Linked DNA regions of Homo sapiens. The protein of the gene in region 1 purifies or fractionates together with the protein of each later gene. This does not show direct contact. Each region holds a gene or a part of one and is shown on either strand. Other genes may lie near its edges.

Region 1 (3,832 bases):
GACACCATGCCTGGCTAATTTTTGTATTTTTAGTAGAGACAGGGTTTCACTATGTTGGCCAGGCTGGTCTTGAACTCTTGACCTTGTGATCCACCCACCTCGGCCTCCCAAAGTTCGGGGATTACAGGTGTGAGCCACTGTGCCCGGTCAATTATTTTTTCTTATAGCTATTAGTGGTGTTTTTGTTTTTTGAGACACAGTCTCGCTCTGTTGCCCAGGCTGGAGGGCAGTGGTGCAATCTCGGCTCACTGCAACCTCTGCCTCCCGAGTTCAAGTGAGTCTTCCGCCTCAGCCTCCCGAGTAGCTGGGACTACAGGCGCGCGCCACCATGCCTAGCTAATTTTTGTATTATTAGTAGAGATGGGGTTTCACCATATTGGCCAGGCTGCTCTCAAACTCCTGACCTCGTGATCCTCCTGCCTTGGCTTCCCAAAGTGCTGGGATTATAGGTGTGAGCCACCGCCCCTGGCTGTTAGTGGTATTTTAAAAAATTATGTCTAGGCATCTATAATAAGGCTGTATGTATTGGATTGCTGTGAAGAGTCAATGAATTAATAAATGCAAAGTACCTCAAACTGTTATCACATAATACAGGTTTAGTAAAAGTTTTCCACTATTATCAGTGATATACTCATTATCATAAGTATCTTCATTAGGATTTATGGAAAGGATTTTAACCATGTTGTTTACCTTTGGCAAATTTGTAATTCATGGTGGAAAAAGAGAAACACTTGTAATGAGTATAACGAAGCCTTTCCCTATCATTATTATTCAGTGTGGAATTTTAAAAGGAAGAGAAAAAGTATGTGTGCATAGTCTTTGTTCAGACTTTATCTTTTATGCTACATAAAGAATACCAGTCTGAGGCTGGGCGCGGTGGCTCACACCTGTAATCCTAGCACTTTGGGAGGCCAAGGTGGGTGGATCACTTGAGGTCAGGAGCTCGAGACCAGCCTGGCCAACATGGTGAAACCCCGTCTCTACTAAAAATACAAAAAAAACAAAAACAAAAACAAATAGCCAGGCATGGTGTTGCATGCCTGTAATCCTAGCTACTCAAGAGGCTGAGGTGGGAGGATTGCTTGAACCTGGGAGTTGGAGGTTATAGTGAGCTGAGATTGCACCACTGCACACTCCAGACTGGGTGACAGAGCGAGACTCTGTCTTACAAAATAAAAAATAAACGGTTACCAATCTGAAACCCTGAAAATATGATGAGTAGTAGAAAGCACAGCTGTCAAAAAAGCAGGAAGAGATTATAAAATTTTTTCTAATATTTCCCCCCAAAATGCAGAAAACATACTGGCAACATTATTTGACCAGAAGAAGCAGTACAATAGGATAACCATCAAATATCTGATTATTAATTCAATATTCCCTCTTAATTAACATGGGTTAAGGAATAAATCCCTAATATATACATTATTTAAATGTACATGAAAATGAAAACAATTGAAAAACCTGTGAGTGGCAGTAAAAGTTGTATTGGAAGTTTTATAACCTAATATTTGTGCATATATTGTAATACTAGGAAGAAAAAATATAGAACCCAAGGAACTAAAACAAGCTGAAATGAATTGTGGGAGGAAGGAGGTAGTATTATTTTAAAAGGCAGAAATAATTGAAAGAAAAAAACTGGATCTGAATCCAAAATTGATATTTGATGGAAGAGAAAAAAAATGAGACAAAGTTTAGTGATTCCAGAGGTGAAATAAGGATGACAAATAAACAATATTGTATATGAGAAATTGAAATGGCTATATATGTAAACTTAAAAGAACTGTGTCATTTGGGGTAATGAAAATGTGGCATGGGTAAAGGTTGTACAATTTTGTTTATATACTACAGGTCACTCAACTATACACTTTAAAAGGGTGAATATTATGCTGTGTGAATTTGATCTCAATTTAAAAACTTAAGGCTGGTTGCAGTGGCTCATGCCTGTAATTCCAGCACTTTGGGAGGCTGAGGTAGGAGAATGGCTTGAGGCCAGGAGTTCAAGACCAGTCTAGGTAACATAATGAGATCCCCCTCCCCTCATCTCTACAGAAAAAAAAAAAAATTAAAACAACAAACTTAAAAGTTGGTATTATAGACATTTTTATAATATATCTGAAAATCTGGAAAAAGTCTGTGATTTTTAATAAGTTGACGACATCAGAATTAACTGGAGGTGTAAAATCTTAATAGACCTCCCTCCAGAATAAACTTATTTAAAAAAATAAGACTGGCCAGGCATGGTGGCTCACGCCTGTAATCTCAGCATTCTGTGAGGCCAAGGCGGGTGGATCACCTGAGGTCGGGGATTTGAGACCAGCCTGACCAACATGGAGAAACCCTGTCTCTACTAAAAATACAAAAAATTAGCCGGGCGTGGTGGCTCATGCCTGTAATCCCGGCTACTCAGGAGGCTGAGGCAGGAGAAAGGCTTGAACCCGGGAGGCAGAGATTGCGGTGAGCGGGGATCATGCCATTGCACTCCAGCCTGGGCAACAAGAGTGAAACTCTCTCAAAAATAAATAAGTGAAATAAAATTTTTCTTAAAATATATTTTAAATGTCAAATTGCTACACTAAAAAAGACACCAAGGTAGAGATTTTTATAGGTGAAATCTATGAAATGTCTTAGGAAACTCTTCTAGGACATAGACTGAGATAGCAAATTATCTATTTTTAAAATTTGTCATAATCCTGATGTTACAACCTACTAGAACCCAAAACAATTTGTCCAGAATCAGTTATGAAAATACAGCATTATAAATTAGCAAATCAAATCTAGTAACCCATTGAAAATAAATATTTGTCACATTCTGAATTTAGGAAAAAACAATTCTGATAAATCAAACTTTCTACTTTCTGAAACTTGAAAATCAAATTGATTTAGATAAGATTGTATTTCTTAGTGTCTGAACTCAGGAACCAAATAGATGTGGATAGCATGGGATTTTTGGAATACAAGATAAGATAATTTACATGGGATTGCAAAAGTTCAAATAACTAAAGTTCTGTCAATGAAAATATATGCTCTAACCTCAACATCTTCTAGATGAACCCTTTTTTCTAGCAGTATTTGACAGGATGGGATATATTTTATAAATAAACTTGGACTATTATCCTATCTGCTGCAGTATCACTGTTCATTCATTTATGCCCTTTACTTCCTACTTGAAGGGTCTTTAAACATAGCCAACATATCCAATCATTGCTGTGCATTTTGGATGAGGGTGGATTGCGGGGCTGCATTCAAAGCCATCCTGGGCCACATGCAGCCTATGGAGCGTGGGTTGGATGAGCTTGATGTACCACGTTTTCTTTATCCAGTCTACCATTGATGGGCACCTGGGTTGATTCCCCATCATTGCTATTGTGAATAGTGCTGCGATCAACATACAAGTGCATTTGTCTTTTTGGTAGAATGATTTCTTTTCTTTTGGGTAGATACACAGTAATGGGATTGCTGGGTCAAATGGTAGCTCTGTTTTAAGTTCTCTGAGAAATCTCCAGGCTGCTTTTCACACTGGCTGGACTATTTTATGCTCTCACCAACAGTGTATAAGCATTCTCTTTTCTCCGCAGCCTCACCAGCATCAGTTGTTTTTTGACTTTTTGTTTGAGACAGAGTCTCGCTGTGTCACCCAGGCTGGAGTACAGTGGCATGATCTTGGCTAACTGCAACCTCCGCCTGTTGGGCTCAAACAATTCTCCCACTTTGGCGTCCCAAGTACCTGGGATTACAGGTACATGCCACCGCACCCACCTAATTTTTGTATTTTTTGTACAGATGTGGTTTCACCATGTTGCCTAGGCTGGTCTCAAACTCCTGGGTTCAAGCA
Region 2 (3,832 bases), on another chromosome or scaffold:
TACTAAAATTTAGTTAACTTTACTAAAGTTAAAATTATAGTTAAGGTTAATTTGAATAAGGAATGAACAAAACTATGAATAAAGCATTTTTACAATTGATAGAATGTTGGGAGAACATTAAGCATCTTGAGAGCAAAGCAGTCTTTTAAAAAGGACTATTTCATACATAAAACATTGATGTTGATAGCAAATATGTTCATTCAATAAAGTTATTTACTGAATGGTGTTTTGTTACCTTCAGGAATGAACTTATAAGTGACAAATCTTTTACTTCTCTGCAATATTTGATAATTTATATTGTTCTCTAGAATAGAGTGACTACCTCTGATAAACCTACTTAAGTGAAAGAATTTTCTTTGTATTAGCAATCTCCACGTGAGGTTTAAAATTTTTTCAGTCTGTAGCATATTTATATTGTTTTTGAGTCTGTGTATACATGTGTATCTGTGTGTATGCTGCTTTTCCCTAGTGTGTTTGTGTATGTTGCTTTTCCCTAGACATTTTGTATACATGACGTATTGGACTGTTGTTGTTGCCTAGCATGAAGAACAATATTAACCTTTGAGGTGCTTTTTAAATATTTCAATATGTTTGTGTTCTTTCATTCTTGGAAAATTATTAGAATCTCAATATAAAGAGTAGAAAATTAAACTAATAAAAATATGTACTTTCAACTCTCCATACATTCTAATAGTATTTTTTCTTTCATGCAAATCTAAATTTTTTTTTTCCATTTTCTAGACTAAATGTGTTAAATGGGCTTGCCAACAATATGGATGATTTGAAGATAAACACCGATATTACTGGTGCTAAAGAAGAACTCCTAGATGACAACAATTTTATCTCAGACAAAGAGAGCGGAGTTCATAAGCCAAAAGATTGTCAAACATCATTTCAGAAAAATAATACGTTGACTCTGCCTGAAGAACTGTCAAAGGACAAATCTGAAAACGCCTTAAGTGGAGGCCAGTCTAGTCTATTTATACATGCTGGTGCTCCTACTGTTTCTAGTGAAAACTTTATCTTGCCTAAAGGAGCTGCTGTTAATGGACCAGTTTCACACTCCTCCTTAACTAAGACTTCCAATATGAATAAAGGCAGTGTTTCATTAACCACTGGACAGCCTGTGGATCAGCCAACAACAGAATCTTGTTCAACTTTGAAGGTAGCAGCTGATCTTCAGCTGTCTACACCACAGAAAGCAAGTCAACACCAAGTTTTATTTTTGTTATCAGATGTAGCACATGCTAAGAATCCCACCCATTCCAATAAAAAACTACCTACCTCTGCTTCAGTTGGTTGTGACATTCAGAATTCAGTAGGGAGTAATATAAAGTCAGATGGCACTTTAATAAATCAAGTAGAGGTGGGTGAGGATGGTGAAGATTTATTGGTGAAAGATGATTGTGTCAATACAGTAACGGGAATTTCCTCAGGTACAGATGGATTTAGGTCAGAAAATGATACAAACTGGGATCCCCAAAAAGAGTTCATTCAATTTCTTATGACTAATGAGGAAACAGTAGATAAAGCTCCACCTCATTCTAAAATAGGTCTAGAAAAAAAAAGAAAGCGAAAAATGGATGTAAGCAAGATAACTCGTTATACCGAGGATTGCTTTAGTGATTCTAATTGTGTACCCAATAAATCAAAAATGCAAGAAGTAGACTTTCTAGAACAAAATGAAGAGCTACAAGCAGTAGACTCACAGAAATATGCATTATCAAAAGTGAAGCCTGAATCAACTGATGAAGACTTAGAATCTGTGGATGCCTTCCAACATCTAATTTATAACCCAGATAAGTGTGGAGAAGAGAGTTCACCTGTTCATACTAGCACTTTTCTTTCAAATACCTTAAAAAAGAAATGTGAAGAGAGTGATTCTGAGTCACCTGCTACTTTCAGTACCGAAGAGCCATCATTCTACCCCTGTACAAAGTGCAATGTGAATTTTAGGGAGAAGAAGCACCTCCACAGGCATATGATGTATCATTTAGATGGGAATAGTCACTTTCGCCATCTTAATGTCCCAAGGCCATATGCTTGTAGAGAATGTGGACGGACATTTCGAGATCGCAATTCACTTCTAAAACATATGATTATTCACCAGGAGAGAAGACAGAAGTTGATGGAGGAAATTCGTGAATTGAAAGAACTTCAGGATGAAGGAAGAAGTGCACGATTACAGTGTCCTCAGTGTGTGTTTGGTACCAATTGCCCTAAAACATTTGTGCAACATGCTAAAACCCATGAAAAAGATAAAAGGTACTACTGCTGTGAAGAGTGTAACTTCATGGCAGTGACAGAAAATGAATTGGAATGCCATCGAGGCATTGCACATGGGGCAGTGGTAAAATGCCCTATGGTCACTTCTGATATTGCCCAGAGAAAAACACAAAAAAAGACTTTCATGAAAGACTCTGTAGTAGGATCATCCAAAAAATCAGCTACCTACATATGTAAGATGTGTCCTTTTACTACTTCAGCCAAAAGTGTTTTAAAAAAGCACACGGAGTACTTGCATTCATCATCATGTGTTGATTCATTTGGTAGTCCTCTTGGACTTGATAAAAGAAAAAATGACATCCTTGAAGAACCTGTAGATAGTGATAGCACTAAAACATTAACTAAACAACAGTCAACCACATTTCCAAAGAACTCTGCTTTAAAACAAGATGTGAAGCGAACATTTGGATCAACCTCACAATCAAGTAGTTTTTCAAAAATTCATAAGCGGCCACACAGAATACAGAAAGCTCGGAAAAGCATTGCCCAATCAGGTGTAAACATGTGCAATCAAAACAGCTCTCCTCATAAGAATGTTACAATTAAAAGCAGCGTTGACCAAAAACCTAAGTATTTCCATCAAGCAGCAAAAGAAAAGTCTAATGCCAAGGCAAATAGCCACTATTTGTATAGACACAAATATGAAAACTATAGGATGATCAAAAAATCAGGTGAATCATATCCTGTGCATTTCAAAAAAGAAGAAGCTAGTTCATTAAATTCTTTACACCTGTTTTCATCATCAAGTAATTCTCACAACAATTTTATTTCAGACCCTCATAAGCCTGACGCCAAAAGGCCTGAAAGCTTCAAAGATCACAGACGTGTAGCTGTAAAGAGAGTAATTAAGGAATCTAAGAAGGAAAGTTCTGTTGGAGGGGAAGACTTGGATAGCTATCCAGATTTTTTGCATAAAATGACTGTTGTCGTTTTGCAAAAACTTAATTCTGCTGAAAAGAAAGATAGTTATGAAACAGAAGATGAAAGTTCCTGGGATAATGTTGAGTTAGGAGACTACACTACACAGGCCATAGAAGATGAAACCTATAGTGATATTAATCAAGAGCATGTAAATTTATTCCCTTTATTTAAGAGCAAAGTGGAAGGTCAGGAGCCTGGAGAAAATGCTACTCTTAGTTATGACCAAAACGATGGCTTTTATTTTGAATACTATGAAGATACTGGAAGTAACAACTTTTTGCATGAGATACATGATCCTCAGCATTTAGAAACTGCAGATGCTTCATTGTCAAAGCATAGTTCTGTTTTTCATTGGACTGATTTGTCTCTTGAGAAGAAATCGTGTCCTTACTGCCCAGCAACATTTGAAACAGGTGTTGGGTTATCAAATCATGTCAGGGGGCATCTTCACAGAGCAGGATTAAGCTATGAAGCCCGTCATGTTGTATCACCAGAACAAATAGCCACAAGTGACAAAATGCAGCATTTCAAAAGAACTGGCACAGGAACACCTGTTAAACGAGTTAGAAAAGGTAAGTTCTCCATGGGGATGATTTGGGCTGATAGGTCTGTGTTCTAATTCTGA

Evidence for each region.
Region 2: the proteins of ZNF383 (region 1) and ZNF644 purify together in Homo sapiens (affinity purification with mass spectrometry; one large-scale study listed by BioGRID and IntAct). This does not show direct contact.

The regions. Positions count from the first base shown.
Region 1 is NC_000019.10:37,245,624-37,249,455, forward strand, and holds the end of ZNF383 (zinc finger protein 383), read left to right. Parts: 3' UTR 1-3,117; downstream 3,118-3,832.
Region 2 is NC_000001.11:90,938,219-90,942,050, reverse strand, and holds part of ZNF644 (zinc finger protein 644), read left to right. Parts: intron 1-741; coding exon 742-3,779; intron 3,780-3,832.